Linked DNA regions of Homo sapiens: region 2 is linked to region 1. Evidence: fine-mapped expression QTL. A gene starts in region 1. The other region holds a variant in brackets. All regions are shown on one strand. Distances are between the middles of the regions.

Evidence for each region. PIP is the estimated chance that this variant, and not a neighbour inherited with it, causes the effect. A credible set is the group of variants that fine-mapping cannot tell apart.
Region 2: its variant is the best candidate, but not a certain one, in a credible set for the expression of ABHD12B in sun-exposed skin (GTEx, PIP 0.85).

What each region holds. Positions count from the first base shown.
Region 1 is chr14:50,869,368-50,874,748 of GRCh38, reverse strand. It overlaps ABHD12B (abhydrolase domain containing 12B), which reads right to left and starts at 2,696. Exons shown (of 13, transcript NM_001206673.2): 1 at 2,471-2,696. The coding sequence starts at 2,574.
Region 2 is chr14:51,023,031-51,028,411 of GRCh38, reverse strand. It overlaps TRIM9 (tripartite motif containing 9), which reads left to right. Exons shown (of 13, transcript NM_001387360.1): 2 at 3,052-3,147. Among named protein-coding and RNA genes, the nearest start is that of TRIM9, 69 kb to the left of the region's middle. RefSeq lists an enhancer at 1-21. The variant A/G (reference allele first, on the strand shown) is at 2,359.

The sequences.
Region 1 (5,381 bases):
TACTCCTGCACATTTTCTGAGCACTATCTAGGATTGTAATGACTTGGGGTGGAATGGGGGAAATGAGGAGGAAAATAAACCTTTGGTTTCCCCCAACTTCCTTCTGGAGCACATTTTCCATTTTTCTTTTTTTATTATTATTTTTTTTTGAGACGGAGTCTCGCTCTGTCACCCAGGCTGGAGTGCAGTGGTGCGATCTCGGCTCACTCCAACCTCCGCCTCCCAGGTTCAAGCAATTCTCCTGCCTCAGCCTCCGGAGTAGCTGGGACTACGGGCATGTGCCACCACGCCTGGCTAATTTTTTGTATTTTTAGTAGAGACAGGGTTTCACTGTGTTAGCCAGGATGGTCTCCATCTCCTGACCTCATGATCTGCCCGCCTTGGCTTCCCAAAGTGCTGGGATTACAGATGTGAGCCACAATGCCTGGCCTCATTTTTCTAATTTAAAGAAAACCAGTTGTAAAGTGGAGACTTACTCTCCTTGGCCCACCCACCTTAAGCAGCAACTGGATTTGATAAAAATTTTTGTAAAATAAATAACTAGATTCCCAAGGCATTAAAAAATAGCCACTGAAAAAATCATATGATGAAATGTTCTTGGGTCTCACAACACATCCCACTAGTTCCAGTGCCATGATCAGGGCCAGGGGCATGGCAAGCCCTCCATGAAGGTTTGCTCACCTAAGTGAACCCGGCTCCAAGAATCAAAGAGGACTTGGGATAGTGGAAATGGGTCTGGGCCTCAGCCTCAGCACATCTTATGGTAGCCAATAATCTTCTGCTCAGATGAAGACATACGCTAGTATTTTGTTCTTTCAGGAAGTGTCTCTTGAGACTTTTTTCACTAATTAGTAAGGCAAGTAATAGATGGTCCCCAACTCCCTATCTCCCACTCCATTATCAACAAAGTGGGTTATTCTCTATGAGTATGATGTGCAACTTTGATTCTCTGCCTAATAAATGCCCTTTACTGCCAAATAAATGTTAAATAATCAGCCATCAATTCCACAGAGACCATCAAAGTGAAAAACATTAGATGTCAACGTTCCCAGAATCACCACATCTGGGAGAGAAGTCCTGTTAATATGCAGTTTGACAAGTGCAATCAGGACATTCTGCCACGTGTTCAGATCCAACCCAGAGCTGGGAGGCATGGGTTCTAGGTGACTGGGCCCCTGCAGAGCTGCCAGCACTCTGCTGTCTGCAATGAGAATAAAAAGGAATAGAAGAGAAAAGAGACCAGGTGCAGTGGCTCACACCTGTAATCCCAACACTTTGGGGTGCCAAGGCAGGTGGAATCTGTGAGCTCCAGGAGTTTGAGACCAACCTGAACAATGTAGTGAAAACCCATATCTACACAAAATACAAAAATCAGCTCAGTGTGGTGGCAGGTGCCTGTAGTCCCAGCTACTGGGGAGGCTGAGACGGGAGGATCGCTGGAGCCCTGGGAATGAGCCAAGATTGTGCCACTGCACTCCAGCCTGGGCAACAGAGTGAAACCCTTGTCTCAAAAAAGAAAAAAAAAAGAGAGAGAGAGAGAGAAAAGATCCCCGTTTGTCATCATCACTCTGGGCACTCCAAAGTGAGGTCTCCTGTGTCTGGATGTAATTTTTGGATATTTTCTAATCAGCACAAATTAAACAAAAGGAATAGAAAGAGGGAAGTAAAAATGCCAATACCTTCCCACACCAACAAAACTAAATGAAATACCCACGTGTCCTGGGTCCACGATCTCCAACCAATACCTGGCTTCAGTGCAAACAAGACTGACAATATGTTGCAGGTGGATTCAGGTAATTTAAGATTACTGTTTAAACCGAGGATCCATGGGAGGAAGAAAACAGAAACAAAACCCGAAACACCCACTGATACATTTCAGACTTAAACAACATAAGAACTTGGCACAGGTAATGCCAAGTTATGGTTTCAACACACTATGTACATCTTTAGCATACTGGAGGTGTTTTCTTTAAATACATGCCAGGGAGTTCACACTCAGGGAACTAGGCACGGATTTTCTGATTCTTTTCCACCTACACAGATAGGCCCTTGACCTAAGAGGATCCCGTCCAAGATTACAACATATATTACTATTGTCACTATTACTAATGTCATTCAGATCCATCTTGTATGTTAGCAAAATGGTCAGATAATAGAGATTGGTGTAGGAATTCAACCATCTCCCTGGCATCTGTATTTCAGAAGCCCCCAAAAGTTATAACTTCCTGAAATACCAAACCTGAGAGTCTCGCTGGTCCAGGTTGGGATTGAGGCTGAGGATAGCAAGGGCAACCAAAGAGCCCTAGAGTTCTCAGGGGGCCGCCGAGGTCCCCCGGAAGCCACAATGCTGGGCCTTGGGCCCGGGCCAGCAGAGGGGATTGCGGCCTCGGCCGCGCCCTGGCCCCCTGCCCCATCCCCGCGCAGCCTGAGCCGTCGGGGCCCGGCCAGGGGTGGACCGGGCGGTACTCACCGCAGGTTGCGGTCGACCATGTCCCACCAGGCGGCCACGCAGCTACGGGCTGGGGGCCCGGGCGGCTCGGGCGATGCGGCCGCCTGGCAGTCCTGCGCGTCCATCCCGCGCCGTGTCCCGATACGCCGCCACCGCCGCGGGAGCTGCAGTCCGGAGCAGCCGCCCGCGACCTTCCCGCCCCGGCGGCACCGCGCCCGCCCTCCTCCTCCGCGCGGTCAGGCAGGCTGGTACGGCGGGGGAGACGCGGCCCGAGGGTGCGCTCCGCCCGGGTCAGGCTGTTCGCGGCCACACACACACACACAGATGTCCTAAGCTTATAGCTAGCTATGCTACATTTTATTTTAAATTGATTTCCATTATACTTCTGTGTGTGTGTGGGTGTGAGGCGCGCGCAACGCAGTAAAATATGTTTTCACCATGGTACTACTAACACAAAAGTTTGACCGCCACAGCTTTTGATTTTCATGAAGAATATAAGCTTTCCTCTACTTAAACCTCACTTTTTTCTTTTTCTCTTTTTCTGAAGCCTCCTTGTCTCCAATTCCCCATCCACCCCCAAAATCCTCACAGCCCCCCACCCTGTCACCCTTACTATAGAAAGAATTTCTTTGGCTCCCTTTGATTTACTAATGATTTGTCTGTCCACGTGGGGTTATGAACACAATTACTCCATGTAGCAAAAAATTAAGACCTTTTCGGTATTTTGTTTACGTAGCAGCATGTAGCAGAACCTCATCATTGTACCAAGGAGTTCACACCTTGAAACTTTGACCTTGGTACAGGTTTACATCTTGGTGCAGGTTTACATTGTGCAACTGTCTCCTAGGAGCAGGAACTGTCTACCAGAGCTACTCTAGGGAAGCCACGGCCTGCATGTGTGGGGACAAAGGAGGAAGAAAGGGAATTAGGTTTTATTTGGATACATTCGGATGCCAGCATCAAGGCTTCATCTTGGAGGCAAGGTGCAAATCTTAAGAGGTGAAATGGGTTTTTTGTAGTGTCTGTGTTCAGAGGGCACAGCAGGGGGCTGTCAGCACCAGAAAGTGCGTGGAAACCCATCTGCTTGAGGATAGTAAGATGGTCTGGGGGAAAATACCCACACTTTTCAAGAAAGGGAAGTTTTCTTTGAGTACTAGCTCATTTCATGGAACTGTCAGGGCAAAGGGGGATTTTGTTCACTGCCTGTTAATACTCTTATACTTGCTCTGGGAATGTTTGTTTTCTTTGTTTCTTTCTCTTTCCTTCCTTCCTTTCTTTCTTTCTTTCTTTCTTTCTTTCTTTCTTTCTTTCTTTCTCTTTCTTTCTTTCTTTCTTTCTTTCTTTCTTTCTTTCTTTCTTTCTTTCTTTCTTTCTTTCTTTCTTTCTTTCTTGTCATGGTCTTACCCTGTCACTGAGGCTGGAGTGCAGTGGTGCAATCATAGCTCACTGTACTTGAACTCACTTGAACTCCTGGACTCAAGCAATCCTTCCACTCCAGCCTCCCAAGTAGCTGGGACTACAAGCATGCACCACTATGCCTGGTGCGCGCGCGCACGCACGCTTGTGTGTATAGAGATGAGATCTCACTATGTTGCCCAGGCTGCTATCAAACTCCTGGCCTCAAGCAATTCTCCCACTTCGGCCTCCCAAAGTGCTGGGATTACAGGTCTCTGTCACCACACCTGGCTGGAATGTTCAGTTTCTGATTCACACACATCAAGATAGAAGAGGAATTAGCTCAGAAAGGACCAATGGGATCCAAGCCTGACTGATGAGCCAGCAGCAGGTGGGTTTTCACAGAGCCACAACCTGCATGATGAGAAAGCTTCAAGCAGATGTCGGCTCTACCCTTGGAGTTCTTCATAAACGTGGTCTGGAATCTCCCAGAACTTGTTCAGGGAAGCTCTGGATGGGACTCTGGGGCCATGCCAAGTGGAGATGGAGGGATCAAAGATGGGGAGGAGAGCTTGGAGGAGAGAAGAACAGCTGCATATGGTCCCAGAGTCTATTTCCATCTACTTGCTCAGGTTGAGAGAGGATATTTCCATCTACTTGCTGGATGAACAAAGTTGTAAGCCCCAAGTCTAGGGATATGTTTGAAATGCTCAGCAAAAATCTCTGAAATTGGAAATCACTATGGCCCATTTTTTGAAAGGTTGCATAAGACTCTGCAAGAAGGTCTTTCCCAGTATAAATAGCCCCTTTCAAATGGCACATCCTGGAAATCAGGGAACAAAGTCTCCCATATGATTTGATAGAACCTGAAAAACAAAATATGCATTCATTTATTCAGCACCCATTTACTGAGCACCTTTTAGGTACCAGGTACCACATTGGGCACCGTAGGGATACAAATCAGGATCCCAGCTGGTAGAGATTCATTTCAGGATGAACCATGAGAACACAGAACAGGAAATGAAAAGTGTCTTAAGGGTAGAGATTAAATCAGGGGATAGCAGGGGCTGGAGGTGGGGAGGGGAGGTTGACTACAAAGGGGTGCGAAGGGACATTTTAGAGTGATGGGAATAGTCAACATCTCAAGTGTGGTGGTGGTTACTATAAATATCCACCAATGCATATAACTCACAGGTGAATTTGACTGAATATGAATTATACCTCAACAAACCTGACTTTTGAAAAGTGACCTAAGAAATGTACAGATAAACTATATAAATGAACATGTCCTATGTCATGTTGTATAAATGTTAAGACAAAGCTGATGGTACAAATACATCAGAAACCAACAGTTGAATGTTATTTGCACTAGCAGAAAAATAAATCTTGATTGGAGACAGATTAATTTGACCACCTAAAATTATTCTGGAAAAACAGGGAATGGGGAATAAGACTGACCACCTCTCAGCTGCTGTACAGCTGTGAAGGTAAACTGCTGGTAATAAGGCAGTTGGGTGTTGAAGACCTAGATATCTTG
Region 2 (5,381 bases), 150 kb before region 1:
AAATACCAACCTATAAAAACAATGTGCATATAAATCCTTACAATAAGAGCACTTTCTAGTGATAGTTTTCCAGGATTTTTCATTGTCTCCTCAATTTCTACAAGTGGACAAAGCTTAAGAGAATGATTTCTAGATCTTTATCTTATAATGCAATTTTTTATCAAATACCAGAACAATCATCAGCCAGGTAGAAGGCATTCTTGGGACGGACCATAAACACAAAGAGGAAATTGGAAATAAATTGATTTTTGCAGTTCACTTACTGCTTTGTCATATAAAATCCTGGGACTAGATGGGGCCAAAACTCTTTGTCTACTACTAGGAATGATTGTATTTCTAAGTATACAGCAGCAACTGGTCAAAAAATCTATGGGTATCAAGTCTGTCTTATACAGACACAATTAATTGCAAGGTTGGAATACAAGACACCAGGCAGCTTCACTTCTGTGTAACCAAATCAATTTTACTTCTGTACTGAAACATCTAAGTGTGGTTACTAAACATAGGTTATAATAAAAAGAGGAAGAAAACTATGGTAGTCCAGCAAACTTTTACTCATTCAGGAAAAAAAAAAGATATGAGTTCTAAAGTAACAATGAAAAAAAATTTCTTCTTTAAAATATGCCTCTCATATTATTGCCTGCTCTTCCAAATGAGACCGTTTTTCCCTCCTTTATCCCTTGGGCTCCTGGAAATATTAATAGTTATTGAGGAGAAACTTTTACTCCAAATAATATTGTAGCTGAGACCCAATCATAAAGAATTTTGCAACTGTAGGCTCACTTTGAGCTTTATCTTACTCAGTTGTGTTGGTCTTGCCTCTTGGAGCCTAAATACATAGAGCAAAGTACAGGTGATCGAAAATGTTCTCCAACAGACCCTGTTCCAGGAATCTGTCCTGCGAATCCCTCCAGTCAGCAGGTGTTTGTGTGAGCAAGAATGAAGAAAACAAATAAGAGTTAACAGCTGGTTGGGCACGGTGGCTCACACCTGTAATCCCAGCACTTTGGGAGGTCGAGGTGGGTGGATCACCTGAGGTCAGGAGTTTGAGACCAGCCTGGCCAACATGGAGAAACCCCATCTCTACTAAAAATACAAAAGTTCACTCGGTGTGGTGGTGCACGGCTGTAATCCCAGCTATTCGGGAGGCTGAGGCAGGAGAATCGCTTGAACCTGGGAGGCAGAGATTGCAGTGAGCCAAGATCACACCATTGCACTTCAGCCTGGGTGAGAGAGTGAGACTCTGTCTCAAAAAAAAAAAAAAAAAAAAAAAAAAAAAGTTAACAGCCAGCATTTATTAAGCACGCATCATGCACTGTGCACCAGTAGGGTAATAGGGTTCTGGGCTTTAGATATAGTATCTTATGCAATGCCCACAAAACCCAAGAATAGTATTCTTCCTCTGATTTTATGGATGAGGTAAAACAATGTATAAAGGGTTGAACAGCCAGTAACTGGCAGCATTTCAGAATTCAGAATTGTTCCCTTAACTAGCAGAAGCTTTCACATTGATTAATGCATTCAACCCTCACAATAACCCAACTACAAAGTATTACTGTTCTTCCCACCTTTTCCATTGGAGTAATTCAGACAAAGGTAACTTTCTCAAGGTCACACTTATAGGGGATAGAGCGAGAATCTGCACCCTTTCAAACCTATATTCTTTCTACCATCCCACATTGCCTCAACCAAGCATTTGGTGTGCATATTTTTAGAGAGTCAGTGCCCAACTTTGTATTTAAAAGACAAATATAAGAGAAAAGCATTCACAGCACCAAGAGATATAATTTTAAGGTTCTGCCCTTTTACAGAAAGGAAAGGGTAGATGAATCATTGTGTTGGCAAGGAGAATAGGCTTTAATTTGAAAAGAAGACAGTGCAGGAAAGGGAGTCTGTCTCTGTACCTGAGGTACGGAAGGGTATACCCAGACTGCTAGGAGGGGAAGGAATTTGTATCAAGTACAGTGATACTTGATATAAATTCCTGCTAGCAATAGAAAACTCCAGAACAGTGACTTGAATAGGAGTTAATTTTTATCACATAACAAGAAAGCTAGTGGTGAAGGTTTCAGGTGTTGACTCAGCTGCTCAAAGATGCCATCAGAACCGAGCTCCTTCCCCTCCCATCCCTCCACCCATACCCTATTGGCCTTCTCCTCATGTGAGCCGGAAGACATCACATCCATCCTAAAGTCAGGAACCACAGTGGAGAGGCTGCATCAATCACAGTGGTTCCGTATCAGCAGAAAAGCAAAAGCTTTCTCAGACCCCTCCAGTCCCCAGCAGACTTCCACTTAGGTGTCGTCCGTCAGGATTGTGTACCACGGCCTCCCCAGCGGACGAGGAGGCTGGAAGAGC[A/G]AGTACCTACCTGGACACCTTGCCAACCCAGCAGAACTGCCTCCTCGTATGGATGGGGTGGTGTGGGAAGAAAGAAAGAGAGTAAGCCTTGGTGTCGGAGGCTAGTGAGGAGAGGACACAAATGTGCTAGGGCAGCAGGGCTGTACTTGGGAGAAGGAAGAGGACACGGATGAGGCAGGAGTGGAATGTCATCCTGCCCATTGAATTTGTGATTATATTTAAGTGGCCCCAGAGGATCACACCAGTACCTACCCCTTCCTTCATCCTGTTCTTTACTCTATTCTTTCTGCCCTACCCAGACCAATAGCCCTTTGTGCTAAGTAACGTTGATAAGAATTAGATCATCTGACTCACTATTTTGTTTTGCTTTTTTAGTCCTTAGCAAATATGTATTCAATAAATGATTGTTTAATTAATCAATGAAGGAGGAGATGAAGAAATTCTAGGTTGATATCAGCTGGTGAGGGCCTTTGACTGCTGTGGCCAGAAGTGTTCACTGCTTCCAAGGAGAAACTACTCAGGAGCACAGGGAGTTTCGACACCAGAATCTACCTGTACAAATGCCAGCAAAAAGGTCCAACCTCAGACAAGAGGAATCTGAGGAGGTTGATGACTCTTCAGTTTTGAGTCTCGCTGGCCTTGTTGGTGTATCCTGTGATTACAGCTCCATGGCTTCCTTCTTTGTCTTTGCAGAGCCAGCTCTCCCAGGCGCTGAACGGACTGTCAGACAGGGCCAAAGAAGCCAAGGAGTTTCTGGTACAGCTGCGCAACATGGTCCAGCAGATCCAGGTATGGGTGTTACCTGGGACGCAAGGAAACCCGCCGGTTAATACGTAACTGTGTGGCGGGAGAGTTTCCTTCTCCTCTTTTATTTTTATGTGTCGTGGGAAAATTCCTATTTTGTGGTTGTTGTTGTTCTTTACATACAAACACATAGAGATCAACTTCAAACATACCCCTTCTTGAGGTAGTTACTTTTTGCCAACAAGCCGGAAACACAGCCTGATTTTCCAACTGGTTCCTGTCTTCCACACTGAGGTCCTAATTCTCTACTACTGAATATTCAGAAAGAGGCCTATTTTTTTGTAAACTCAGGGTCCTTATTGTTGAGCTTGTAAAACCTTGTAGGTTTCCAAAACACCTTGTAATAATTGTATCATTTAATGGTAACAGGCCACAGTTTTCTCTTCTTTTCTTCCTTCATTTCCTTCCTGCCTTCCTTTTTTTCTTTTTCATTCCTCCCTTGTTCCTTCTTCCTCTTTTTTCTTCCTCCCTTTCTGCCTTTCTTTCTTCTTTTCTTCCTCCCTGACCCACAATAATGCTTCTCCTCTGCTTAGACATTTAAATATTTTTCAACCATGATCCCCTGGCAACTATAATTTCAGATTGCTTTATCTAGACACAATGACCAGCAATTCAACCAGCATTTAAGAGCTCATAAATTCTCCACTATAGCTGAAGGAGAAAAACCATAAACTGTATAAGACAGTAAAATAATGACCTTCTGTACTGTTTAGCATTCTTATGTTTTGAGGTTTGCCTCACAGAAATAACCTTAGTTCTGGCCTCCAGTAAATTGCCTAAGTTCATATTTAACCATGTCAAGGTAGAAATGGATTTTTAAATGTAAGCCACCCTTTCAAAGAATTACACACTGATTTCTTTGCCTTTTTTTTTGGCACACATGCCCATGTTAAACTTTTGATTCCCTAACAGCCTAGCAGTTTTGTATACTTCCTTCTGTTTTCCAAAGCAATGGAGTTTATCAATCAGTTCTTTCTTTACTCTGCTGGCATAAAATGTGCAGCCCCAGGCTTGCCTCTGCCCGGGCCTCTTCATCAGAGCAAAGCTTTCTTTCTGCTCTAAATCAGTGACAGAGCTTACAAGGAGAAGGTTTCCCCTCACCCCACCCTCCAATATTACCCTGCATGTGGCATAGAGAGCTCTTAAATGATGTTTTCCAAAGGCCTTCTCTGAGAGTTCAAAAGCAATTGCCGTGAAAGCCAAAATTTAGCATTGCTCAAGCAATTACTAATGCATTCCTTATACGAAGACCTTGCATTTGAAAACAATTACTAAATGCCTACCAGTTGATTATTATATAAAAAGACACAGTTCTTTATGACTTTGGTAATAAATTTAAATTTGTGCCTTAAATAAATTTAAATTGTGCCTTTCTTGCCAGCCCCAAAAGTTTACAGTTTACTCAACTGGGTGGTGTTTTTTAAGTATTACTAACGTATATGTGAGTATTTAGCTTTCGTTTACTGTAAATTACTTTTTTTCAGATTATGCATATATATGCAAAATTGCATATATTACTCATTGAAAAGCTTATCCTTAATAACTGCATATAACTCATTGAAAGAATTGCTTAAAATAAATGTCTATGGCATGTACAGATTTAAATCAAATAAAAAGGTTATATCCAGCATTTAATTTAAACATCACAGGGAAGCTATAATTCACTTAGTATGAAGTTGCCTTTCCCCTGCAAGGTGTTGGGTCATATCTGATTTTTATGGCAGGGTGATCCCTGTTACACACATTGATTGTTTTTTTCTGCCTACTATTTGCTTTCCTTAATGAAAGGGGCAAGTACTTTTACCCATTATTCTTATAAACTTCTGTTCTCATTGGATTATTGTTAATATTGAAGACCAGTGCCATCCTTTTTCTTCTTTATTCCTTTGAATTTAATGATTTCTCGTGCCTCAGCAATGCCCCACTCCCTCCTCATTGCCTTTTTGAATGCCAGCTTCCACCATACATAGCTGAACATATGTGGCCCTCAAAAACATTCATAAACAACTCTATGAACTAAAGCTTTGTTTTGCTTAATAGAATTCAAATTGTGGAGATGATTTCCTTTTGATAAATTTAAGTGATAAATATTTATCCCTTTTAATCTAAATTTAAAGCAAAACATGACCACTGTAGAATAAAGTTTATCCAGTTATTTTTTTAAAATTACCAAATGTGCATTGTGGACAGAGTTCCTTTTCATTCCCTTCAGCAGGATG